7 linked regions of the Homo sapiens genome follow. The protein of the gene in region 7 purifies or fractionates together with the protein of the main gene of each other region. This does not show direct contact. Each region holds a gene or a part of one and is shown on either strand. Other genes may lie near its edges. The genes, in order: TBC1D4, TFAP4, KLHL24, NOSIP, KIAA1671, PEX14 and NEU2.

What was found.
Region 1: the proteins of NEU2 (region 7) and TBC1D4 purify together in Homo sapiens (affinity purification with mass spectrometry; one large-scale study listed by BioGRID and IntAct). This does not show direct contact.
Region 2: the proteins of NEU2 (region 7) and TFAP4 purify together in Homo sapiens (affinity purification with mass spectrometry; 3 studies listed by BioGRID and IntAct, with this or other methods). This does not show direct contact.
Region 3: the proteins of NEU2 (region 7) and KLHL24 purify together in Homo sapiens (affinity purification with mass spectrometry; one large-scale study listed by BioGRID and IntAct). This does not show direct contact.
Region 4: the proteins of NEU2 (region 7) and NOSIP purify together in Homo sapiens (affinity purification with mass spectrometry; 3 studies listed by BioGRID and IntAct, with this or other methods). This does not show direct contact.
Region 5: the proteins of NEU2 (region 7) and KIAA1671 purify together in Homo sapiens (affinity purification with mass spectrometry; 3 studies listed by BioGRID and IntAct, with this or other methods). This does not show direct contact.
Region 6: the proteins of NEU2 (region 7) and PEX14 purify together in Homo sapiens (affinity purification with mass spectrometry; 3 studies listed by BioGRID and IntAct, with this or other methods). This does not show direct contact.

Annotation. Positions count from the first base shown.
Region 1 is NC_000013.11:75,360,170-75,363,669, forward strand, and holds part of TBC1D4 (TBC1 domain family member 4), read right to left. Parts: intron 2,439-3,500; coding exon 1,857-2,438; intron 1-1,856.
Region 2 is NC_000016.10:4,266,524-4,270,023, forward strand, and holds part of TFAP4 (transcription factor AP-4), read right to left. Parts: intron 1,682-3,500; exon of another isoform or gene 1,525-1,681; intron 408-1,524; exon of another isoform or gene 1-407.
Region 3 is NC_000003.12:183,634,131-183,638,422, forward strand, and holds the start of KLHL24 (kelch-like protein 24), read left to right. Parts: upstream 1-1,492; 5' UTR 1,493-1,663; exon of another isoform or gene 1,664-2,181; intron 2,182-2,404; exon of another isoform or gene 2,405-2,479; intron 2,480-4,292. UniProt on the Homo sapiens protein: Necessary to maintain the balance between intermediate filament stability and degradation, a process that is essential for skin integrity.
Region 4 is NC_000019.10:49,556,557-49,560,056, reverse strand, and holds part of NOSIP (nitric oxide synthase-interacting protein), read left to right. Parts: intron 1-17; coding exon 18-123; intron 124-152; exon of another isoform or gene 153-622; intron 623-707; exon of another isoform or gene 708-1,078; coding exon 1,079-1,160; intron 1,161-2,807; coding exon 2,808-2,967; coding exon of another isoform or gene 2,968-2,976; intron 2,977-3,063; coding exon 3,064-3,182; intron 3,183-3,320; coding exon 3,321-3,500. UniProt on the Homo sapiens protein: E3 ubiquitin-protein ligase that is essential for proper development of the forebrain, the eye, and the face. Catalyzes monoubiquitination of serine/threonine-protein phosphatase 2A (PP2A) catalytic subunit PPP2CA/PPP2CB.
Region 5 is NC_000022.11:24,955,716-24,959,215, reverse strand, and holds part of KIAA1671 (uncharacterized protein KIAA1671), read right to left. Parts: intron 1-3,500.
Region 6 is NC_000001.11:10,481,450-10,484,949, reverse strand, and holds part of PEX14 (peroxisomal membrane protein PEX14), read right to left. Parts: intron 458-3,500; exon of another isoform or gene 1-457. UniProt on the Homo sapiens protein: Component of the PEX13-PEX14 docking complex, a translocon channel that specifically mediates the import of peroxisomal cargo proteins bound to PEX5 receptor.
Region 7 is NC_000002.12:233,031,192-233,035,471, reverse strand, and holds NEU2 (sialidase-2), read right to left. Parts: upstream 2,801-4,280; coding exon 2,600-2,800; intron 1,357-2,599; coding exon 415-1,356; downstream 1-414. UniProt on the Homo sapiens protein: Exo-alpha-sialidase that catalyzes the hydrolytic cleavage of the terminal sialic acid (N-acetylneuraminic acid, Neu5Ac) of a glycan moiety in the catabolism of glycolipids, glycoproteins and oligosacharides.

The sequences.
Region 1 (3,500 bases), on a different chromosome or scaffold from region 7:
TTCTAAAAATAGTAATTTTAAAAAATAAGTTATAATCATACTTTCTTCTAAATGGTCAGCAAAAGGATGTATCTGTAATTGGGCTAATGAATTAAAATCTTTGAAAATAACCCATTCAGAAAAATTAACAACAAGGACTGTGACTAACTAAAAAAAGAACAAATCTGATAACCCCAAGAAAAGGGGAAATTCAGTTAATACATCACCAAAGACTAGAGAGGCTTTAATGACATACCTTGAGTTCATTAAAAACAAAACCACCACCAACAAAAAAGAAAAAATATGAACTTCCAGGGGTCAAGGCTGTAGTGAGCTGTGATCACACTGCTGCACTCCAGCCTGGATGACAGAGCGAGACCCTGTCTCTTAATTTTTTTTTTTTAATCAGGGGTGTGTTTTTTTTTAATCAAGTAGTAATATATTCAATGCTACTTCTTGCCATCATTTTCAATTGTTGAAATGGGCATACTGAGCTCAGAAAGCAAATCTGATGCCTTCATGATATGGAGCCACATTTGTGTTCTGTGTGGGATTACTTCTGCAGGAGAACATCACATTTTCTCCTTAAGGCAAAATGTTTGTAAGTGTTGCCTCTTTACTCTGAATTTACTTTTGAAGCTGTACTTGTTCACCTACGAGTGTTTATGAAATCCTGCATTTGGGATGCTTTTTCTATAATAAAATATTATCATTTGTGAAAAAAAGCCTCATGAACTTCCGATAAAGCAAACTTCTGATATTACACACCGGTACTATTTACCAAAATACTCCGGAATCTCCTTCTTAGGAAATCTTTAAAATAGGTTTAAAAAAGACAGTCACTCTTTTCTTTCCCCCCAAGGAAACTCAAATCTCACAAGCTGAGAATTAAAGACTCTCTACAGAGTATTGTTAGGAATTAAGTTATTTTAAGCGGAACCTGACACCTTCTATACCCTGTACAACATTCAAAAATGTTTAGAATTAAGAATGATCTTTTATACCAATACTACAGCTTGCATCAAATTATTTTAGTATCCAATTCAGTACATTTTTAGGCCAATGATGTTTCTTTAACGTCTTTTGGTGTGACAGCATAAATTGGTGTGTCCTCGACTCAAAATACAAATACAAGTCTCTGGAGTTTTTTCTTCTCTAGAAAAAAAGTCCCTTGTTTCTCCATGCCAAATCGCACTCTCTCAGATTCATATCTTTAAAGATTTACTTTCTACAATTTTTTTGTTGTTGTTGAGATGGAGTCTCGCTCTGTCGCCCAGGCTCGAGTGCAGGGGGTCAATCTCAGCTCACTACAACCTCCGACTCCCCAGTTCAAGCAATTCTCCCGCCTCAGCACCTGATTAGCTGGGATTACAGGCACGCCCCCACCACATCCGGCTAATTTTTGTTTTTTAATAGAGACGGGGTTTTGCCATGTTGGCCAGGCTGATCTGGAACTCCTGACCTCAAGTAATCCGCGTACCTTGGCCTCCCAAGGTGCCGGAATTACAGGCGTGAGCCCCCGCGCCGGGCCTACAATTTTTTTTTAAGCATTTATTTGAGAATCACCCCAAGGCAAATGCTGGTTATAGATTCTTATTCTCTCTACCAGGTGTCCAGGACGTTCTACGAATTGCTTCCTCCTCCTCTTCCTTCCCTACTCCCTTAATTCTTATACTCCACACTCCACGTCTGCCTCTCCCCCCTTCCCTACTTTCCTCTGCACTCTTCCTCCACCTGCCTTATCTGCTTTGAAGGGGAAAACAAATAAAAGTTAGATTATTCGTTATATAGAGGTGGAGCTGGGAGGAACTGGATGCCCAGCTACTTCCATCTGGCACCTTTTGGGGCAAGGGCAGACAGCGTCCGATCAGGTGTACCTGGAAGAGCATGGTCCTGTTCTTCTCCGAGTCCGAGGGCTGGACGTGACTGGGTGCGCTCGCGTGTCTCCGTCGCGGCTGGGATTTCTGGCTGCCCTCGTGAACTCTCCGTTGCACGCCGGTGACACTGCTGCACCGAGACCGAAACTCCTGCTGCTCATCAAAGCCAGAATCTTCCAAAATCCGCTCAGGGAAGCAGACCCGAGAGCTGGTCAGGGCAGGCTGGCTGGCCCCGGCAGGTAAGCCAAGGTGGGTGTCGGTGCCGTCAGCCTCCTCCGGCAGGCAGTCTCCGGGGGACCCGGGCACCACCACCTCCAAGTCAGCCAGGTCCTCTCCTGGGTCCGGACCGCGCTGCTCCCCTTGGATCTTCAGGCGCTGCTGTTCGTGCAGGCTGAACTTCTCCATGCAGTCATCGATGAGGCTTGAGGGGGCCTTCTTGTGGGTCACGGTCACCTTTCCACAGTACAGGACTTCGAACTTCTGAGAGTTGTAAAAGGCGTCCTCATTATCTTTGCTGGGTTTGGCATCCTCTTTCATGGCCGCTTTAGATAATTGCCTTATGCTGCTAATAACATCAGGAACCTGGGGGAAAAAATTAAAACCCTGATTCTAGTTGAAAGTTTTGAGACAATTTACATTTACCTAGCCCAATTATTACCACATGGAATGTATTTTCATCCTAAATAATATACAAAGTAATAGACACTACACGAGACAGAGCATACACTTACATTATTTGACATAAATGACTTCAAGATAAAATTAAAATGTAATGAAAATTGAAATTGAATAGCAGGATTATATTTTCCCACTTTAAATGAGTCTCCCAGAAACAAAACCATGAAACTATATAAGCCACTGCCAACCTATTATGTCATAATATGTCTTTTGATTGTGTTTAAAAGTTATTTGTGCCTCAGCTGAAAGGAACCAAAGTTCCAACCATGAGGACAAAATAACCTTTTTTGATGAGGAGATTAAAACCTAGACATCCCTCATCAGCATTAACTATCAGAGAAAATGCAAATTAAAACCACAATAAGATACCACTATATACCTCTTAGAATGGCTAAGATAAAAAGAAGACTGCCAGCAAGGACATGGGAGCAACTGAACTCTCATACATTGTACACAGACATATAAAATGACACACCACTCTAGAGGATGGTTTGGCAGTTTCTTAGGAGTTAAATATAGACCTACTTCATTACCTAGGCATTCCACTCCTAAAAATTAAAAGACTGGAAAACATGTCCACACAAGAGCCTACAAACAAATATTCAAAGGCACTTTTGTCCCAATACCCTGTGAAAGGAAAATATCTTAGGCCCCCAAAATCACTAAGGAAAACTCAAGCTGAAAATTGCTTAGGGCAAACCTACCTCCTATCTATTCAAAGTCACCCCTCTGCTCACTGAGATAGATGCATATCTGATTGCCTCCTTTGGAAAGGTTAATCAGAAACTCAAAAGAATGTAACCATAGCACCTGTTTATGACCTAAAAACTCCCTCCCTGCTTTGAGTCTTCCTGCCTTTGCTTCAAATTGTCCCGCCTTTCCAGACGGATCCAAGGTACTTCTTACATATATTGACTGATGTCTCATGTCTGCCTGAAGTGTATAAAACCAAGCTGTGCCCTAACC
Region 2 (3,500 bases), on a different chromosome or scaffold from region 7:
TGGAATAGGAGCTAACCAGGGGTTGTGATTGGTGGAGTGCCGCTAACCAGGAATTCTTATTGGTGGAATGCTGACCAACCAGGGCTTCTGATGGCTGACCAACCAGGGGTTCCTGTTGATGAAGGATGGTTGATTGAAATTTCCAGGTGATACTGCACTGAATAAAGTGGATTTTTCTGCAAATGCCTGAAAGTTTCTGATAGCTCTTTCTGGGGTTTTGCATTTACGGTTAAGGTCTGTAAACGTCCTACACACACAGTAAAGGTCCACTATCCTCTCTCTGGCCACTTCAGACTCCTCCAGGTGAAAATCAAAGGTGACCCAAGTCCACCAACACCGAGGTTCTCTTTTTTCTTTTGACTGAGTCTCGCTCTATTGCCCAGGCTGGAGTGCAGTGGCACAATCTTGGCTCACTGCAATCTCTACCTCCCGGGTTCAAGCGATTTTCATGCCTCAGCCTCCCAAATAACTGGGATTACAGGCGTGATCCACCAAGCCTGGCTAATTATGGGGGGCGGAGGGGGGGTTGAGATGGAGTCTCGCTCTGTTGCCCAGGCTAGAGTGCAGTAGCACAATCTCAGCTCACTGCAATTTCTACCTCCCGAGTTCAAGCAATTCTCATGCCTCAGCCTCCCGAGTAGCTGGGATTACAGGGACCCACCACCACGCCCGGCTAATTTTTGTATTTTTAGTAGAGATGGGGTTTCACCATGTTGGTCAGGCTGGTCTCGAACTGTTGACCTCAAATGATCCATCCGCCTCGGCCTCCCAAAGTGCTGGGATTATAGGCATGAGCCACCATGCCCAGCCACACCAAGGCTCTCTTGCTTCTTGCAAGCCAGCCTCCTGGGTCCAAACAGGGGCTGCCCTAGATTTAGGAATAAGGTCACTGAGCAGCCAATGGCCAAGGAACAAAATTTGGGCACCAGCCTTGGATGCTAAGGCAAGAGCCGCCACACCTACCACCACAGCACCCACAGAATCTGCTGAGACTGACGCTGGCGTCCCAACCAGACACTTGGAGGCATGGGGCATGCCCTTCAAGTCTAGAACCCTGCCAGGTACCTATCCCTCCTGCCCAGGCCAAAGTCAAGTACCCCCAATCCCTCTACACCTGCCTGCCCAGCTCCAGCCTCAAACCGGCCACTGAGAACTTTCATTTCACACTGCCCTGAAGTCACTCACATACCTCAGGGTCACTTAACATCTACACAGTCAACGTGGGAAAGTCCACACGGGATTCTCCCAAACCCAAAAAAGCACTAAGGCACTCATCCTTCTCTAACCTAATCAGCCCGAGGTTCTCATCCATGCTCCATCCCCGCTGCTTCTACACTACTCACCCATACTCTGTACTCTGACCTGGCCAGTCTGCTGCCCTTCCCCTCGGTCCCAGAACACACCATGCCCAGGCTGTTGCCATCAGAAACATCCCTGCCTCCCTCCCTTCCCCAAAGCTCCTCCAGCCCATCAGTGGGAACCCTGCACTGGGCTCAAGTGAAAAAGTCCAGCCTTGCCACTTACTAGCTGTGCAACACCAAGCCTCGGTTTCCTCCGTCTGTAAAATATGGAAACACTGCTTCACTTCACAGGGTCATGGTGAAGTTTAAAAGAGATCAAGAAAGGCCAGGCACGGTGGCTCATGCCTGTAATCCCAGCACTTTGGGAGGCTAAGGTGGGCAGATCACCTGAGGTCAGAAGTTTCAGACCAGCCAGGCCAAGATGGTGAAACCCCCTCTCTACTAAAAATACAAAAATTAGCCGGGTGTCGTGGGACGTGCCTGTAATCCCAGCTACTCGGGAGGTCGAGGCCCAAGAGTTAGTTTGCACCCAGGTGTCCAGGACAACCCATGAAACTCTTAGGGGGTCTACAAGACCTTTTAAGACCACAAGGCTGTGAGCTGCTGAGGACAGGAGTCACATCCTGTTCATGGCTGTATCCTCAGTCCCGGCAGAATGTTGTTGCTTCATAAATAAATCAGGGACCCAATAAACACTCCAAAGCCTTCAATTTTCTTGAACTCCTTCTTATGGGAGCTTTTTAAGTTTTATTATTTTTTTAATTTATTTTTATTTATTTATTTAGAGGCAGGGTCTCACTCCCGTCACCCAAGCTGGAGTGCAATGGCATGATCTCGGCTTACTGTAGCCTCAACTTCTTGGGCCCAGGTCGTCCTCCTTCCTCAGCCTCCCAAGCAACTGGGAGTATAAGTGCACACCATTCACACCCGGCTAGTTTTTTGTATTTTTAGTAGAAACAGGGTTTCGTCATGTTGCTGAGGCTGGTCTCGAACTCCTGGGCTCAAGTGATCCTCCCGCCTTGGTCTCCCAAAGTGCTAGGGTTACAAGAGTGAGCCACTGCACCCAGTCTTACTGTTTTTTTTAAGAGACAGGGTCTCTGTTACCCAGGCTAGAGTGCAGTGCTATGATCATAGCTCACTGCAATCTCCAATTCCCAGGCTCAAGCCATCCTCCTGCCTCAGCCTCCCAAGGAGCTGAGACTACAGGCACATGCCACCATGCCGGGCTAATTTTTTTATTTTTTGTAGAGGTGGGGTCTTGCTATGTTGCCCAGGCTGGTCTCGAACTCCTGGGCTCAAATGATTTTTTCCCCTTGGCCTTCCAAAGCACTGGGATTACAGGCTTGAGCCACCGAGCCAGGCCTAGGAGCTTTATGATACAGACAGAGGCCAGGCGCGGTGGCTCACGCCTGTAATCCCAACACTTTGGGAGGCCGAGGTGGGCAGATCACGAGGTCAGGAGATCGAGACCATCCTGGCTAACACAGTGAAAGCCTGTCTCTAATTAAAATACAAAAAATTAGCCGGGCGTGGTGGTGGGCGCCTGTAGTCCCAGCTACTCGGGAGGCTGAGGCAGGAGAATGGCGTGAACCCGGGAGGCCGAGCTTGCAGTGAGCCGAGATTGCACCACTGCACTCCAGCCTGGGCGACAGAGCGAGACTCTGCCTCAAAAAAAAAAAAAAAAAAAAAAAGATACAGATGGAGAGTCCGGGCACGGTGGCTCACGTCTGAAATCACAGCACTTTGGGAGGACGAGGCGGGCAGATCATAAGATCAGGAGATCGAGACCATCCTGGCCAAAATGGTGAAACCCCGTCTGTACTAAAAATACAAAAATTAGCCGGCCATGGTGGAGCGGGCCTGTAGTCCCAGTTACTTAGGAGGCTGAGGCAGGAAAATTGCTTGAACCCCGGAGGCAGAAGTTGCAGTGAGCCGAGATTGCGCCACTGCACTCCAGCCTGTGCGACAGAGTGAGAGTCCATCTCAAAACAAACAAACAAACAAACAAACAAAACACAAGATATGGATGGAGACTACCATATACCTGCCCATATACCTGCTTTTAAGACTCAGTGGCTGGGCGCAGTTGCTCATGCCTGTAATCCTAGTACTTTGGGAGGCCAAGGTGGGCAGATCACCTGAGGTCAGGGGTTCGAGACCAGCCTGGCCAACCACTATGGTGAAACCCCATCTCTACTA
Region 3 (4,292 bases), on a different chromosome or scaffold from region 7:
ACACACACATACACACACGATGGATTATCTGATGGGTTTGATTATATGGAGTTGTATTGAAAGCATTTTATCGTTTTAGAAAAACTAAGAGGACATTGTGATAGATCCATAATAAAATAAGCAAAGAAAGAGGATAATTATTAAAACTCCAAGGAAAACCAAAAGCCATACAAGATGGGAAATTGTATACGATTTGTCTCAACAATGAATAATAAATACATGGTCTCATTAGCGTAAACATTAATGATTTAACCAGATTATGAGAAGGATAGCTTCCTTAATAGGAAATAGTCATACATTATTTGGAAATATATAAATACCAGAAGAAATAGCTCAAATAATTGAATAAGAGATGGAAAAGAGGCCTAAAAAGTATGTTTAAAAGGCCTGTATATAGGCCTTCCATATTATTTCCGCCTCTGGTCATCAGAACACAACGCCTAATTTAATAGAGGCATGACGGTATTCATGACATGTAGAAGATAGAGATTTTTAAATTTGGTATCAGAAACCAAAAACTAGTTAAATGGTTGCAATCATCCTTTAAAAGAATACCTGCAGGCGGGGCGCAGTGGCTCATGCCTGTAATCCTAGCACTGTGGGAGGCCAAGGCAGGCGGATCACTTGAGGCCAGAAGTTCGAGACCAGCCTGGCTAACACAGCCTCTACTAAAAATACAAAACATTACCTGGGCGTGGTGGCGGGCACCTGTAGTCTCAGCTACTCGGGAGGCTAAGGCGGGAGAATCGCCTGAACCCGGGAGGCAGAGGTTGCAGTGGGCCGAGATTGCGCCACTGCACTCCACCCTGAGTGGCAGAGCGAAACTCTGTCTCAAAACGAAACAAAACAAAAAGCTTGCAGACACAAAACGACAACACAATGTCCTTTAGGAACTCCATCTACCTTGGAAAACAGGGATTTGTGACAGCTTTGGTCGACGTGCATGTGCGTTTAAAATAAAAAGGTAACCTAGGATTTGATACCAGGGACAGTAACAGCTTTATCAAAAAAAAAGAGGTGGTTTTCCTTGCTCCTTCTAAGGACTGGGGTTTTAGTCTCGTCCACCCTGCAGGCCCTCAGGCCTGATTTCCGATTGTCTATCAAAGGGTCAAATAAAAAGCTCTCTAAGCTTCGACCCAAGCTTTAAAGTCGAAGGGCTGATCGCGGGCTTTTTCCTTGGGACGTGGCAGGGGCCTTTGAGGGAAGGAAAGAAACGACTCTGGCTTCTCACTCGGCTCCTTACACAAGAGGCATTTTTTTAACTGTCTCTGCTTAAAACAAGGTGTTTTTGAGTCAGCAGCCCTTTGGGTGGGTCTCGTCCTCTTGGGCACCCGACACCCACCCCACGGCGGGAGCCCCAGGTGGCCCCGGAGGCCACCGGGAAGCGTGAACTACATCTCCCAGGGTTCCCCGGGGCGGAGGACGCCCACCCGGATTGGCCAGGGTTCGCTGACGCTCAGTGTTTTGGCCCGGACGGTCACATGTTTCCTTTGTTGTGAGCTGCGGCAGAGACTGGTGGCTGGAGGAGACGCCGGCGCTGGAGAGTGCGCTGCGCCGCCCGCCGCTGAGGGACCGCGGGGTTAGCCACTGCTGGCTGCTTCCAGTGTTCGCCGAGAGGTACCGGGGGTGACAGCTCCGGGACCGGCCGAAAGGCGAGGAACCGGTCAGAGTCTGAGTCCTCGGGGGCGGAGGGGCGACGGCGGTCCTGACCACCGGGGTGTCTGCGGGAGGGCAGCCAGCGGCGGCCGGCCTCTCAGAGCCAGACTGGCGGTCTGCGGAGAGGCTGCAGCTGGGCTACAGGGCCCCTTTCTGAGGCGAGGGGCCTCCAGGGTTCACCTGGGGGGTCTTCCTCCCCCGCTTGGTAGCTACAGCCCTGAGGGAGGGCGCGCGCGCCTCCTGGCACTACGGCCCGGAACCGCGGCGCGGCTGGTGCGGCCTGGCTAGGGCGGGGTGGTTGCCGGGACTGGGGGTAGCCGCAGGTGCGGTAGGCTAGTCGCCGCGGGGCCGGGCGCCGCCGGGGGAGGCGGCTGGGCAGACGGGTGCTGCTTGTTGCCGATGGGCTGCGAACGGGGCGCTGCTTTTTATTTCAGGAAGCCCGGGGGAGTGCGACCGCCTCAAATCCAGCCTTCTTGTTTGGTGGGACGACCGTCGGTTCTGTCCGGGAGGAATGACGGGGTCAAGGTGGGGTCCCCAGGGCCGCGGGCCCGTGAAGCCCCATTAAAGCGATTGCGAAATGCACTCGGCACTGTCACCTGACCGTTACCCCCGCCCCCGTCCCCTGCGAGCCTTTGTTTACCACGATCGCGACACCCGGCCCGCTGCGGCCGTCCCCGGGGAGCCGGGGCGGGCGGGGGAGCGGGCGTTCCGCCGGCGCAGTCCCCGCCTAACCTCCCCACCTTCTTACCACTCCAGGACTCAGTTTCTTAATTTAGTTCCTAATGGACCCGCCCTCAAGTTCTGGACACCCCGGGTGAAGACTGTTAACGCGGCGGGGATTGGGCGCCTGCGGCAGCTTGTGGGCGGTACCCGAGGGAGAGTTCGAGTTTTTATTGGCGAGTTTTTATTGTCACTAGGTGGGCCTGCCCTGGGCCATTCTTCCCGCCCCCTTGAAGGTGATCTGGAGGACGCGCGGGAGCGCGCGCTGTCGCTGCTTTTGCAGCTGCGGCCCGAGTGGAGCCGGGTGGCGCGGGTGCGGGAGGCGCGCGCTCCCGCCCCTGCTGCGGGCGGCTGGTAGCCTCGGTGGCCGCCGCCGCCGCTGCTGCTGCCTGATCCTGCAGGCAGTTCTGGGCACGCAGAGATCGGCTACCGTGGCCTGCCCTCCGAGGACCGGAAAATTAACACCCTTTAACTAGTGTCGCGTTATCTGCCGGGTGGTTCGCAGGAAGTCCTGCGAACACGTTGTTGCCAGTTCTGTAAACGTGTTTAGATAGCTAAATATAGATCACAGTGCCACATCTTAGGGGGCCCCACGGTCACCCCTGAGGCAGTGGCTGTTCACAATTGATTTTAGTGGATTTTAATGATTAATCACTTGCTCTTGTGGGCAGCTTTTCAAAAATCACGTCTTTGTATTTGCAGCTACAGACTGGGTCCACCAGCTAAGAGGTTGGTTTTTATTAGGGTTGTAAAATAGATTTAAAATCTGCTTGTTGTTGGCTGAGATTTAAAAGCAGATTTCTACTATTTAAAAAAGATAGTTTGAAGATACTCCCCTAAAAAGTAAAGATTCTTCCATACTCGGCTCGGATGAGTTGTTTTCCTTGTTTGAGGGATTCTAGGTCACACACTTCTATGTTTTAATTCCCGTGGTAATTCAAAATGTTTGAGAAGTGGGTTGCGACTGTGTCGTTTTAAAATTGTACATTAAGCTGACGGTAATAAAATCTTCAAGACCAATCATTTTTAGCCATAGTGTGTTGAAAATGGTTTTTCTAATCGCTTGAGTTAATAGGGTATTTGCGTTTTGTCAGATTTTCTTCTGCAGATATAGGAATTCACTCAAGACTTAATACACTTGTTTTGTTTTTGAGACAGGGTCTCACATTCTGTCACCCAGGCTGGAGTGGAGTGGTCTCACTCCGTCACCCAGGCCATCTCAGCTCACTGCAATCTCCGCCTCCCGAGTTCAATCGATTCTCCTGCCTTAGTTTCCCGAGTAGCTGGGATGACAGGCGCCCGCCACCACGCCCGGCTAGTTTTTGTATGTTTAGTAGGGACGGGGTTTCACCATGTTGGCCAGGCTAGTCTTGAACTCCTGACCTCAGGTGATCCGCCCGCCTCAGCCTCCCAAAGTGCTGGGATTGCAGGCGTGAGCCACCGTGCCTGGCAAAGACAATACATTTTTGTAGAAGGAAGTTTGAGCTCCCCTGGATGAAGCAGGAATTGAATATGAACAGTTCCTATTGGTTATGCATTCTTTAAAATTCCAGAGGAGATGGTTACACCGGAATGAGCATCTCCTGTGATCAGAACCGCCTCATCACTTGTGCATTGAGAGTATTTAATGTATCTAAATGAGTACAAAATGCAATCGTCTAACCTTTTGAAAAAGTAAAACCATCACTCAGTAAAGGCTTGCTTATTCAAACAAAGCCAGCAACCTAAGTCTCTAAACAGGAAGAAGAAATAAATTCTGCGTTAAGGCTGACTACCAGCTTTAACTTAAACTTTCCTGGCTTTTGTCCAAGTTGTTGAACCTTAATGCTTTTTCAATAACTTTTTTTAACTTCCTTTTCTCCCATTTCATTAAAACCCAAAGGTCAAGCCTGTGAAAAATAAATACTATTAATCAA
Region 4 (3,500 bases), on a different chromosome or scaffold from region 7:
CCCATCTCTGTCCCCAGCGGCCTCGGGCTATGGGACCCAGAACATTCGACTGAGCCGGGATGCCGTGAAGGACTTCGACTGCTGTTGTCTCTCCCTGCAGCCTTGCCACGATCCTGTTGTCACGTGAGCTGGGAACAGGGATGGGTAGGTCTGGGTGGGGAGAGCAAGGGAACCGCCAGGAGGAGGCTGTGTGCGTGGGTCTGGCCACCTGCACAGCCAGGGAACCCTGGATGAGCAGTTTATCCTCAGAGCCTCTGTATTCTCACATGGGACATGGGCATGATCCTAGCATCTGTTTCATAGTGTGGAACATATGGAAAGGAACATACTTCTAATGGGGTGTAGGGCTCTCAGAGCATTGCCGAGGCCATCGGAGCAGCTCACCTTTGGACACTTCCCATGACCTACCTCTGATGGTAGGGCAAAGGCTTAACAGGTGCTGAGTCCAGGCACTAAATACGTGCTCAATTAGTGGTATATTTTGTAGAAGACAGTAATTAATGATCAGGGCCCCCAAGGCCACCTTCAGGTTTCTTTTTTTTTTTTGAGACAGAGTCTTCACTTTGTTGCCCAGGCTGGAGTGCAATGGGGACATCTTGGCTCACTGATATCCCAGGCTCAGGTGATCCTCCTGCCTCAGCCCCCACGAGTAGCTGGAACCACGGGTGTGCACTACCACACCTGGCGTTTTTGTTTGTTTTTTGTAGAGAGGGGAGCTCACTTTGTTGCCCAGGCTGGTCTCGAACTCGTGGCTGCAACAATATGTGGCACACATTGTTGCTGAGAGAATGAAGCACTTTCCCTGCAGCTCTATTGGGAGAGGACAGCTGGAAGCTCAAATCTAGTCTCTACTAGATTCTGCCCCATGTGCCTTTTTCCTTTGCTGATTTTAATCTGCATCCTTTCACTGCAGTAAACTATCACCATGAGTATAACAGCTTTGCTGAGTTCTGTGAATTCTAGCAAATAATTGAACTTGGGACTGATCATGATGACTTCTGCCTATAATCCCAGCACTTCGGGAGGCCGAGGCGGGAGGATCACTTTCTTTCTTTCTCATTGCACCCTGTCTTTGCAGCCCAGATGGCTACCTGTATGAGCGTGAGGCCATCCTGGAGTACATTCTGCACCAGAAGAAGGAGATTGCCCGGCAGATGAAGGTGATGGGGATGGGGAGGAGGCGGCACACGGAGGCAGGAGCTTTTGAGTCTGAGCTCACAGGCAGAGCCACTCAGAGCCCTCTGATCTCAGTTCCCTCTGCCTGGTACACCATTCCCCTCCCCTGCTTCCGGCCAAATCCTTCTCACCGATTTCAGCCCAGATGCTGCCTCCTCTGAGCTCCTGCCAGTCCCCAGGATCTGCCCCAGTCACCTCTTCTCTTAGCACTTAGCATAGTTGTAGCTGTACATGTGGCTGTCTGACACATGCCCACTTTCCCTTATGGACTTCGAGTTTTCCCACCCTGTAGCTTAGGTCCTTAGTAAAGATATGCTAAATGGGTCGGGGGTGGTGGCTCACACCTGTAATCCCAGGACTTTGGGAGGCCGAGGCAGGCGGATCACTTGAGGTCAACAGTTAGAGGCCAGCCTGGCCAACATGGTGAAACCCTGTCTGTACTAAAAATAAAAAAATAAAAAAAAAAATTGAGCCGGGCATGGCGGGCGCCTGTAATCCCAGCTACTCAGGAAGCTGAGGCAGGAGAATCGCTTGAACCCATGAGGTAGAGGTCGCAGTGAGCTGAGATGGCACCGCTGCACTTCAGCCTGGGTAACCGAGCGAGATTCTGTTTCAAAAAAAAAAAAAAAAAAAAAGATGTGCTACGTGAATTGACATCACCTCATTTTTTCTGGGCCTCAGTTTCATCGTCTGTAAAACGGGCTGACGGCCAAATCAGAGGACACAGCAGGGCACCTGGGAGGTACACGCAGATGAGCATTCTCAAGGCGTGTTACTGGGAACCCGGCCTGGCCTTCCATGGACAAAGCCATTTGATGGGTAGGAGGGGCCCTGTTTGAGGCACAGTGGGTCTGTCCCCCTCTTCCCCTGCCTGGTTGCTGGCGCTCAGGAAACACTACAGGTCACATGCTTATTGGGCTTTTTGTCCCAAGCAGGTGGCTCCCCCTGTGCCCATGTCCTCCACACAGCCTGGTGGTCATGTCGGAGGCCCTCATGAGCATCCATCACTGTCACTGTTACCTCCTCACTCAGCTGGGTGGCCCAGGGTGGTCTGGAACTGCAGCACCGCCCAGGCAACTGCTGTGCGCCAGGCAGGGCTGAGCTCAGGTCATGGCTTCACTTCTCCCGTCCTCACTCACTGTCCGTCCATAGACATGGGCTCCTCAGCATTCCCTTAGATCTGAAGTCTACATCCCCCGTCCCAAACACGGGCTGGGGCATGCACTGTATAGAAAACTTAATTGGCCAGCAGGTGACATTAATTAAATGCTTAGCTGAGTGCCAGGTGAGGCTCTCCATGCTGTAAACACTCACCTTATGTAACCCTTCAGTGAGCCGCTGAGGTGGGTAACCACTGTTAGGCTGTTTTACAGATGAAGAAACTGAGGCCAGGAGAGGTCATAGTGCTCACTTAGGCCACAGAGTGACAGAGATGGGCTTTGAGCCCTGGCAGTCTGGCTATACAACGCAGTAAGGTTCACACCCACCCAGGGTGGCAGTTACCACCCTCTGCCACATAGTGCCTCCATCAGAGGGTCCCCTTTGTGGGCCTCAGTTTACCTACCTGTGAAATGGGAGGAAGATACCCCCAGCCCCACGGGCAGATGCTCAGCCCACTTTCCCCGACGCAGGCCTACGAGAAGCAGCGGGGCACCCGGCGCGAGGAGCAGAAGGAGCTTCAGCGGGCGGCCTCGCAGGACCATGTGCGGGGCTTCCTGGAGAAGGAGTCGGCTATCGTGAGCCGGCCCCTCAACCCTTTCACAGCCAAGGCCCTCTCGGGCACCAGCCCAGGTGACTCAGGTTGGGCTTCTTGTGGGTTGGGGGGCGGGGCGCCGCGGGCTGGGCGGGCCCAGGGGGCGGCATCTGAGTCCCTTCCTTCCCCCACAGATGATGTCCAACCTGGGCCCAGTGTGGGTCCTCCAAGTAAGGACAAGGACAAAGTGCTGCCCAGCTTCTGGATCCCGTCGCTGACGCCCGAAGCCAAGGCCACCAAGCTGGAGAAGCCGGTGAGCCCCCACAGCGCCCCGGCACGCACGGTGCCAGGGCGCCAGGGTTCCCCACCGTCCTCCTCACGCACAGGGACCACGCGCTCTCCACCTGCGCCAGCCCTGCCTACTGAGCCCGCCTCTCTCTGCCCCTTGCAGTCCCGCACGGTGACCTGCCCCATGTCAGGGAAGCCCCTGCGCATGTCGGACCTGACGCCCGTGCACTTCACACCGCTAGACAGCTCCGTGGACCGCGTGGGGCTCATCACCCGCAGCGAGCGCTACGTGTGTGCCGTGACCCGCGACAGCCTGAGCAACGCCACCCCCTGCGCTGTGCTG
Region 5 (3,500 bases), on a different chromosome or scaffold from region 7:
TTTATTTTTAATTTTAATTTTTTAAATTTTTATGTATTTATGTATTTATTTATTTGAGACAAGGACTCACTCTGTCTCAGGCTAAAGTGCAGTGGTGCAATCAAAGCTCACTGCAGCATCGAACTCCTGAGCTCAAGCAATGCTCCTGTCTCAGCCTCTGAATTAGATGGGACACAGCCTGACACACTGCCAGGCTAATTTTTTTTCTTTTCTTTTCTTTTTTTTTTTTTTTTTTGATACGAAGTTTTGTTCTATCGTTCAGGCTGGAGTGCAGTGGCACAATCTCGGCTCAGGGCAACCTCCACCTCCCAGGTTCAAGCAGTCTGCTGCCTCAGCCTCCCAAGTAGCTGGGATTACAGGCATGTGCCACCATACCTGGCTATTTTTTTGTTTTGTTTTGTATTTTCAGTAGAGAGAGGGTTTTTCCATGTTGGCTAGGCTAATCTTGAACTCCTGACCTCAGGTGATTCACCTGCCTCTGCCTCCGAAAGTGCTGGAATTACAGGTGTGAGCCACTGTGCCTGACCGCCAGACTAATTTTTAACCTTTTTTTTTTTTTTTTTAAGAGACAGAGTCTTGCTCTGTCACCCAGGCTGGATTGCAATGGCATGATCTCAGGTCACCACACCCTCCACCTCCGGGGTTCAAGGGATTCTCCTGCCTCAGCCTCCCGAGTAGCTGGGATTACAGGTGCCCCACCACCACGCCTGGCTGATTTTTGTATTTTTAGTAGAGACGGGGTTTCACCATGTTGGCCAGGCTGCTCTCGAACTCCTGACCTCAGGTGATCCGCCCACCTCAGCCTCCCAAAGTGCTGAGATTACAGGCGTGAGCCACCTCACCCGGTCTTAAATTGTTTTTTCAGAGACAGTCTCGCTATGTTGCCCAGGCTGGTCTCAAACTCCTGGGCTCAAGCAATACTCCCATCTCAGCCTCCCAAAGCGCTGGGATTACAGACAGGAGCCACTGTGCTTGGCCTTAGCTTCTTCTTAAATGGCAGCAGTTTGAGTAGTGAGACTAGGCAGAAGCACCCCTCCTTGTGTTGGGAGCCATGCAAGTGGGAAGGGCATGGCTTTGAGGCAGACAGCTTTGGGTTCAAATCCCAGCTCTTCCACTTTCCCGCTGCGTGACCTCGCAGCACATCAATAACCTCTTGAAGCCTCAGTTTCATGAACTGTAAAGTCGAGGGTCTCAAAAACAGGCACCACCTGGGTTTGTTGTAAAATATTAAAAAAAAAAAAAAAAAAAAAGGCCGGGTGCCTGTAATCCCAGCACTTTGGGAGGCCGAGGTGGGTGGATCACATGAGGTCGAGAGTTCGAGACCAGCCTGACCAACATGGAGAAACCCTGTCTCTAATAAAAATAACAAAATTAGCCAGGCGTGGTGGCACATGCCTGTAATCCCAGCTACTCGGGAGGCTGAGATAGGAGAATCACTTGAACCCAGGAGGTGGAGGCTGCAGTAAGCCGAGATCCTGCCATTGCACTCCAGCATGGGCAATAAGAGCAAAACTCCGTCTCAAAAAAAAAAAAAAAAAAAAAAAGGAACAAAAGAGCTTAGCCCAGATTCTGGCATAACAGCGCAGCTCTGATGCACTATGTGCTTTACCTACATTCTCCCCAGTCCTCCCATTTTACAGAGGAAGAAACTGAGGTCCCGGGGGGACATGGCTTATCTAGGTTCACACTCCTATAATCTGGATGGGTGAGTGGAAGAAGGAGAGTGAACTCCTGGACAGGGATGCTCCTGCCCTCCTCTCTGTCCCAAACCTGCCAAAGCCTTCAGGTTTAGAAATTCAGGGAGTGTCTGGGGTATAAAAGGAATTTTTGCTGCCCATGGTCTAACTTTTATTCATTCAGCACATCCTGAATTCTGGGTATATCAGTTGGCATGCAGTTCTCCAGGCGATCTATGCCTTTGCCAGTGCTGTTGCTTCTGCCTGGAATGTCCCAGCCCTCCCTCCTACTCATCCTTTAAGACTCAAGTATCACCTGTGGGTCACTCCCTCTCTCCCCCCAACACACACAGGCACACACCAGGTTGAGCAAAGCACCACCCACCTGGAACTTATCCTGATGACAGGCTATAGTGATAATAATCATACCACCCCTTACAGAGCATAGACACGGGGCCTAGCACTGTCCATACACTGCTTCAGTAAACTCACATAAGAACCTTTTGAGAATGGGAGTATCCTATCATGAGCCCTTTTTACAGATAGGGAAGTCGAGTCTCAAAACCATAACCATGCCCAAGGCCACAGCCAGGAGCAGGCAGGGCCAGGGTTTGCCCTGGACTATCTCTGGCTGATTCCCTCCCTCCCTTCTTTTTTTTTTTTTTTTTGAGACAGAGTCTCGCTCTCTCGCCCAGGCTGGAGTGCAGTGGCACTATCTCGGCTCACTGTAAGCTCCGCCTCGCCAGTTCACGCCATTCTCCTGCCTCAGCCTCCCAGGTAGCTGGGACTACAGGCACCCGCCACCACGCCCGGCTAATTTTTTGTTTTCGTATTTTTAGTAGACACGGGGTTTCACCGTGTTAGCCAGGATGGTCTCGATCTCCTGATCTCGTGATCCATCCGCCTCGGCCTCTCAAAGTGCTGGGATTACAGGCGTGAGCCACCACGCCCGGCTGGCTGGCTCCCTCCCTTCTATCTGCCTCCTCCGGGAAGGCTCCTTCAATTTATCCCTTCCACACCCAACTGAAACCCACCTTCCTCTGTTGCTTCTCTACGGCTTAACCTGAACCCAAATATTCACTAGTTGCAAGTTGGAAGGGAGTTCAAATTCCTGCTTTGCCACTGCTGCCTGGCAAACGCCTCACAATGCCACAGAGGCCTGCATCAGTGAAATGGGAATAATGTGCCCCATGTCTCCCCACAGGAAGTCCTTGAGGACTGGCATGTTTTATACCTACCCCTGAACAGGCACAGGGTTCTAAAGCAGGTTTGCTAAACTGAATTCAGTACTGATACCACTCCCTCTGAGGGGTTTCCTTACCCCAGGTAGACTGTTACACCCACCTTGAGGAAGGGATCTTCAAAGTGAGTGGCTCTCTAAATGTAACACTGATCAATGTCAAAGTTGTCAGTGAACACCCCTCCAACACCATTGGTCTCTACGTCCAGTCCACCGCGCACCGCGGTCTCTCACCAGGATTTTTCTTTTTTCTTTTCTTTTTTTTTTTTTTTTTTGAGACGGAGTCTCACTCTGTCGCCCAGGCTGGAGTGCAGTGGCATGATCTTGCTTCACTGCAAGCTCCGCCTCCCCGGTTCATGCCATTCTCCTGCCTCAGCCTCCCAAGTAGCCAGGAGAACAGGCACCTGCCCCATGCCTGGCTAATTTTTTTGTATTTTTAGTAGAGATGGGGTTTCACCATGTTAGCCAGGATGGTCTCGATCTCCTGACCTCGTGATCGTCCTGCCTTGGCCTCCCAAAGTGCTGGGATTACAGGCGTGAGCCACCGCGCCTGGCCTCTCACCTGGATTTTTCTAGCAGCCTGC
Region 6 (3,500 bases), on a different chromosome or scaffold from region 7:
CGTGACTGCATTAATGTGGGTGAGATACGTCGTGGTAATGTCCACTTTACTAAGAGACTCTCTCTTCTGCTGGCTTTGAGGAGGCAAGTGGGAAGACTCATTTGGCAAGAAACTGAGGGCGGCCGCTGGCTGACAGTAACACACTAAAGTCTCCAGTCTCATGGTCCATAAGGAACTGAATGCCACCAACAACCACACAAGCTAGGAAGCAGACCCCTCCCTAGTCAGCGACCACAGTCCTGACAGATTTCTCAATAGTAGCCTGGTGAGACTCAGCCCAGTGGTTTCCTGACTCCTGACCCACAGAAACCATGAGATAATCAATGTGTGCTGTGCCAAGCGGCTAAATTTGTGGTAATACTGTTACGCAGGAATCAAAAACTACTACAAATGTCCATCAACTGGTGAACAGATCAACAAATTGAGATATAGCCATCCATACGATGGAATACTACTCAGCGGTAAAAAGTAATTCATGGTCAGGCGCAGTGGCTCACGCCTGTAATCCCAACACATTGGGAGGCCAAGGCAGTTGGATCACATGAGGTCAGGAGTTGGAGACCAGCCTGACCAACACAGTGAAACCCCATCTCTACTAAACAAAAAAAAATTGGCTGGACGCAGTGACTCACACATGTAATCCCAGCACTTTGGGAGGCCGAGGTGGGCAAATCATTTGAGGTCAGGGGTTCAAGACCACTCTGGCCAACATGGTGAAACCTTGTCTCTACTAAAAATTCAAAAAAATTAGCCAATTAGCCGGCCATGGTGGTGGGCGCCTGTAATCCCAGCTACTGGAAGGCTGGGGCAGGGGAATCTCTTGAACCCAGGAGGCAGGGGTTGCAGTGAGCCAAGACTGAGCCACTTCACTTCAACCTGGGCAACAAGAGCGAAATACCATCTCAAAAAAAAAAAAAAAAAGGTAATTCATTACTGATAATTACTGATACATACCATAACACAAATAAATTTCACAAACATTATTCTGAGCCAAAAAAGACATAAAAGAATACATAATTCATTCATATGAAATTCTAGGAGGGACAAATATACTCTATAGTAATAGAAAACAGTTCAGATTTCCTAGGACCACAGGCAAGGATTCAATGGGAAGGGGCGTAAGGGAACGTTTAGGGATACTGAAACTGTTGATCTTGCTTGTGGCAGTGGTGGTTACACAGGTTTAGGGTGGTAGTGGTTACACACGTATATACAATTTGTCAAAACTCAAACTGATCACAACACACCTATTAGAATTCCACAGTAAAGTTTAGGCCATAAGACTTTGTCAGTCAATACAATATTAAACTAAAATACTAAAAAAAAACTTGGCCAGGCCAGGCGCAGTGGCTCACGCCTATAATCCCAGCACTTTGGGGGGCCGAGGCGGGTGGATCATGAGGTCAGGAGATTGAGACCATCCTGGCCAACATAGTGAAACCCCGTCTCTACTGAAATATAAAAAGTTAGCCAGGCATGGTGGTGCACACCTGCAGTCCCAGCTACTCCGGAGGCTGAGGGGGGAGAATCGCTTGAACCTGGGAAGTGGAGATTGCAGTAAGCCGAGATCATACCACTGCACTCCACCCTGGAGACAGAGCAAGACTCCATCTCAAGAAAGAAAAAAAGAAAAACTTGGCCATGTTCACACCTGTAATCCTAGCACTTTGGGAGGCCAAGGCAGGAGGATCACTTGAGCCCAGGAGGTCACGACTGCAGCGAGCCATGACTGTGCCACTGCACTCCAGCCAGGGTGACAGAGTGAGACCCTGTCTCAAAAATTTAAAACAATACTAGCAAAGTTGCAAAGAAAGCAACTAATTTAGCAAGTTAACTTTATGATGGAGAAATGTGATAGACACCACCTTAACCAAACAATCAAACTTCATCTTCGACAATGGGACTCGTTCCTCCAGATATGATACACAGATAGACACAACGTCACTTACATAATATTCTCACAAAAGAATGTTTAACCCGGATCTAAATGTAAGGGAACAAATCAGACAAATCCAGATGGTGGAACATTTCACAAAACAAGTAGTCCAGACTCTCCAAACATGTCAATACCATAAAAAATAAAAAACGTAGATGAACTCACCAGAAATGCACATATTATGTTCACAAAAAGACACGTACAGGTATTTTCACAGCAGTACTATTTGTAATGACCCTAAAGGTGAAACAATCTAATGTCCATTAAAAGTAGAATGGCTCAGGCCAGGCACGGTGGCTCATGCTTGTAATCCCAGCACTTTGGGAGGCCAAGGCAGGTGGATCATGAGGTCAAGACATCGAGACCATCCTGGCCAACATGAAGAAACCCCATCTCTACTAAAAATACAAAAATTAGCCGGGCATGGTGGCACATGCCTGTAGTCCCAGCTACTTGGGAGGCTGAGGCAGAAGAATCACCTGAACCCGGGAGACGGAGGTTGCAGTGAGCTGAGATTGCGCCACTGCACTCCAGCCGGTGACAGAGCGAGACTCCATTTCAAAAAAAAAAAAAAAAGTAAGATGGGCCACCCGCAGGGGCTCACGCCTATAATCCCACCACTTTGGGAGGCCAAGGTAGGTGGATCACTTGAGGTCAGGAGTTCGAGACCAGCCCGGCCAACATGGTGAATCCCCCGTCTCTACTAAAAACACAAAAATTAGCCAGGCATGGTGGCCAGTGCCTATAATCCCAGTTACTCAGGAGGCTGAGGCAGAAGAATCACTTGAACCTGGGAGGCAGAGGTTGCAGTGAGCCAAGATCATGCCACTGCACTCCAGCCTGGGTGATAGAGCAAGACTCAGTCTCAAAAAACAAAAAGTAGAATGGTGGCCAGATGTGGTCACTCACACTGGTAATCTCAGCACTTTGGGAGGCCCAGACGGGCAGACTGGTTGAGCTCAGGAGTTCAAGACCAGCCTGGGCAACATGGCAAAACCCCGTCTCTACAAAAAATACAAAAATAATTAGCCAGGTGTGGTGGCATGCGCCTGTGGTCCCAGCTACCAGGGGAGCTGAGGTAGGAGGATGGCTTGAGCCTGGGAAGCAGTTTGCAGTGAGCCGAAATCGTACCACTGCACTCCAGCCTGGGCAACAGAGCCAGGCATTGTCTCAAAAAAAAAAAAAAAAAAGAGTAGAATGGTTAATAATAAATGGCCAAACACATTCATACAATAACTGTATAAAGCAGTGATAATAAACTGTCACTGTTCTCATCATGAATGAATCTCAAAAATATGTGTTAAGTAAAAGAAGCCTGGGAGACTGAGGTGGGAGGCTCACTTGAGGTCAGGAGTTCAAGACCAGCCTGGGCGACACAGCGAGACCCGACCTCTACAAAAAATAATTAGCTGGGCATCATAGTGCATGACTATAGTCCCAGCTACTCGGGAGGCTGAGGCTGGAGGATCACTTGAACCCAGGAGGTCAAGGCTACAGTGAGCTGTGATAACACCTCTCCACTCCAGACTGGGTGACAGAGTAAGACCCTGTCTCAAAAAACAAA
Region 7 (4,280 bases):
CTCTGCTAATTTACACCATGGTCTTCCATCTCAGTTCTTCCCCAGGAACATAAGGAATGGTTCCCAAGAAGGAAGGAGTTGAACTAGAAATTTGTCAAGACCTACACAAAGCTGGGGGTAGGGGACAGGCAGACAAGGTGACAGCTGCGCTGCAGGACCCTCCACGCCTTCCCTATGGAGGGGCTATGGGAAGCCAGACACTTTTGGTTTCTGGGCTGAAAATAGAACCTTTTGGGAAGACTGGAACCACGCAGGAGGAAAAGAGCAAGAGGTGCACCTCTCTCCACACACGGGCGCCGAAGGGAGCCCAGAGTGGCCCCCACGTCCAGGGGCCACGGGAAGGAGAGGCAGCCGCAGAGCCTCCGAGCTGGGTGTGCAGGTGAAAGGCAGGCCCTTGAGGTGGGCACCACAGGCTCACTGAGGCAGGTACTCAGCTGGGAAGGCTTGCTTCAGGGTGAACATGAGAAAGACAATCTCCTCGTAATCATTGGCTTCGTACAGACACCCAAACAAGGGGGACCCATCAGGGCCGGTGCCCATGCTCTGGAGGTCTGAGTAGGCACAGCTGCCCTTGGCCAGCAGTACCGGCTCTGACCAGGCCTCAGGGGCTGGAGGTCGCGGGTTGAGGTAGGCACCCAGGTCGGCCCTCTGCCAGGAGTGTGTGGGGTGAGTGTAGAGCAGCCACTGGGCTGGGGAGCCAGGCCCCGAGCGGGGGCTGGGGAAGCTGATGACGCTCCCCTGGCAGCCCTGGGGCGGCGGCTCCACCAGCTTCTTCACCAGCTGAGACTCCTGGAAATCAAGCCCGTCATTGGTGCTCTGGGCCTGGACCCTGGCTCGGAGGTGGCTTCTCGCGTTGAGGGTCACCACCCTCTGCTCCCCAGTCTCGACTTCGGCCACCTGGCACTCCAGGGTGTCCTGGGCCACAAAGTGCCCTCGCGCCCACGTGCGCCCATGGTCATGGCTGAGGAAGCAGAAGGCAGAGGGGATCGGCCTTTGGATGGGGTGAAGTTTCCGGTAGGCGTAGGCGGGCACCACCAGGCTCCGGGCCCTGTCGTGAAGCTGCAAACAATGCCCCGGGCCCACTGCAAAGGTGGACCACTCCCGGTAGGCTGGGCCGATGGCCGCATCAGTGAGGTCTCTGGGGGAGCTCCAGGTCCTCCCGTGGTCAGTGCTGGTGACTTGGCACAGCCGCGTCACATTGGCCCTGGTCTGCAGCTGCTGTTGCTCCGTGACTTGCCCAGGGATGGCAATGAAGAAGAGGAAGAGGGTCCCCGTCTGCGCGTCATACAAGGGGCATGGGTTCATGGACCGGTGGCCATCCAGCCGGGCCTGGGCCACCACCTCCTGAGCTTGCCACTGAGTAGGGAGAGAGAAAGAAGAAGGCAGCCTTGAAACAGCTGGGGATGGTGCCAGGAGCTGCATGAGTGGGAGGGGTGGGCACGGGTGTGTCTCCCGGGTTAGAGTCAAAAGTCATCGAGAAGAACTCTTCACCCAACACTCATATCCTCCTTGCAACGTTTCCCCAGAGCTGCGGGGCCCAGGGTGCCACCTCACCCCTCCAAGGCAGCCACACTCGGCTGAGTGATTCTGTTCCTTCCATTGCCATCAATATGCATTTACAGAACACCCACCTGCCAGACCACAAGATATGAAGATGACTCGTGCATGAGCCATTCCCAACTTCATCCTGGTTCCTCCACTTCCCACCCCAGTCCAGCTCACCATCCTTGAATAGCAAAGCCCTGGCGGAAGGTGCAATAACCTGACCAGTACAAGACAGAATGTGACGGTCACCTCTCACCTTCTACACTCCATATCCTACTCATGTAGCCAAGGAGGAGTCACATTGAGCTTCCAGAATCCCCAAGTCTATGTCACATGTGCTGTCTGTCCCCATTTATTAACAGCTACCCCCATTGGGCAATTCTAAGCACAGACACAGCACCAAAAGTCTAACATCCATGGTCTCATCTAATGCCTCAATCCCCAGGGAACAGGTGTTAGTAGCTCCATTATTACAGTGAGCAAGAGACCGCGACAGGGAGGAGGAGTTGCCTAGGCCACATCTGTGGTCAGTGGCGGAACCAGGACTTGAACCCAGGTCCATCTGCTTCAAATCCCATGCTTTGAACAGCTGTGTAGTAATGACCACAAAGGAATGATAATAATATTAAACTCTTCAAATATGATCAGCCAGCCTTGGGTGCTGTCATCAGGATTAATTATTTAATCTATAAAATGGGACTTTAGGACACAAGCCATCACCCCACCCCAAGTCCCCAAGTTAATTTTACTCAAAGGACACAACCCTCCATTATGCAACACTGAACTATTCCTCCGTGAGGTCATCACGGATGCTGGGCAACTCATTCAATCTTTCATGAAAACAGATGGAGGCCAGCTGGACTAATTCACAGTGAACCCAGAGGTCCAGGGAACCATTAGGGGCACTTTCTCTGCTCTATCTCTCCTCCGGAGTACAGCCATTGAGGGATAAAGTTGTCCCTGTATTTCTTGAGATCCAGGACTGGCCCCTGATCACAGCAGCAAAGGGTGTGGCAGAGCCCTGGGGAGCCAGTGCAGACACCTCCTGCCTCACCTGAACCTGGTGGGTGGGTGCGTCGTAGTCTCCTCTGCGCAGGACAATCAGCTCTGCGTGCTCATCCTTCTTGCTTGCCCGCTGTTCCGCGAAGGCCAGCAGGGACTGCTGCCCAGGCAGGTAGAGCAGGGCAGGGATTCTGTAGGCATGGGCTCCCGACTGGAACACGCTCTCCTTCTGCAGGACAGGAAGGGACGCCATGGGGCTGGGGGGTGGACAGGAAGAGAAGATGTGTCACCTGCAGCCACACCTGAGATGGGCTCAGAGTCATTCACCAAGACAGGTGGTGCTCACCCCCTGGCTGAGTGGACCAAAGTCAGGGCGGCCTGTCCTCTTCCCGCGTGGGGTTCATTCTCCTTTCCTACATCTCAAGACCCTGCTTCTTAATTCTGCCTTTGCCTCGGTGGATATCGGGAGGGGGTATTGCAAAAGCGTGTTTTGGATTCGATTTTTATTCTAAGTTAACAATGCTCCTTACAACAGATTTTCGATAACCTCCAGCTGCTTTTGCCAAACCCAGCCCATCAATCCAGGGGCAAACCTCGGGAGGACAGCAGTGCAGGCCGGGTGGCATTCGGCAGCTGCCCAAATGCCAGAAAGTGACACATGGGAGCTTTTTATAACTCCAGAGCCCTAGAAAGTTGTTTCAAAGAAAAGGAAAAAGAAAAAGCATGGCTTCTAAGGCTCTGCTCCCCAGGCTGCCTGAGGCTGAGGCCCGTCTGCCCCCGCTGCTGCGTGGGCTCCCCCTGAGGCAGCGAGGGGGCGGCGCTGCAGTGGGAAAGGAAGAGACAGGGGCTCCTGACAGCTAACCCAGGCTGGGGGCGTGGGGTGCTCCAGAGGTCTAAGAAAATAACAATTAAAAATAAGTCTTCAGCTAAAAAGGGTAGGGAGGGGACAGAGGTAACTTGGGGACAGTGGGTGACAGTGATTTTCGGGCTAAGCTGCCTAGGTCCCTTTAGGAGGATGCATCCCGCAGCTCTGGGGAGTGTTGGCTGCAGGGCCCTGGCCTGGGGAGGATGGGCCAGTTGTTCCCAGATGAAGAATCTGCCCCAGGTCATACCCAAGAAGGGCTGCTTGATGATTGGTCCACTCAGAGCCTGAAGACCCTCTTCCTGAACTCCTGACCAGGAACAGTGCGGCTCCGGAGCTCCCTCCGGGCGGCTGGGCCTTCCCTGAGACTGCATTACAGCCGCCTCTTTCTCTGCTGCTCCTCCCTTTCCCCCAGAGGCTCTTGCCTGCCGTGGGTCTCCGTGTCAGAGCCGGCGTCCTGGGCACCCCGTCTGAGACACAGCCTTTGCAGAGGGCAAGTGGGCAAGAGGCCAGCAAGAGGGGCAAGGTTTGCCTTTGTGCACCCTTTTGTACTGCTCTCATTTTTCTACCACATGCATGCGTTATCTATTTAAAACTTAGCTTCTTTGAGAAATAAATGTAATCTATCAGTCTTTCATTCAACCACAGTGAACGTTAATATTAGGACGATGTGAGAAAATAAAACTGAGAAGGGCAAAAGCTGCACAAGGAAAAAATGTGCTATTCCCTGAACTTCGGTGGGAGATTCATGGCTTGGTGATAGAATCACCAAATTATAATCCAAGGACACAGGCCTTGATAGGTATCGGGAGGCCTATGCTGAAACGCTGTTAGAAAATGTCAGCAGGAAAGAATCAAATATGATAACAAG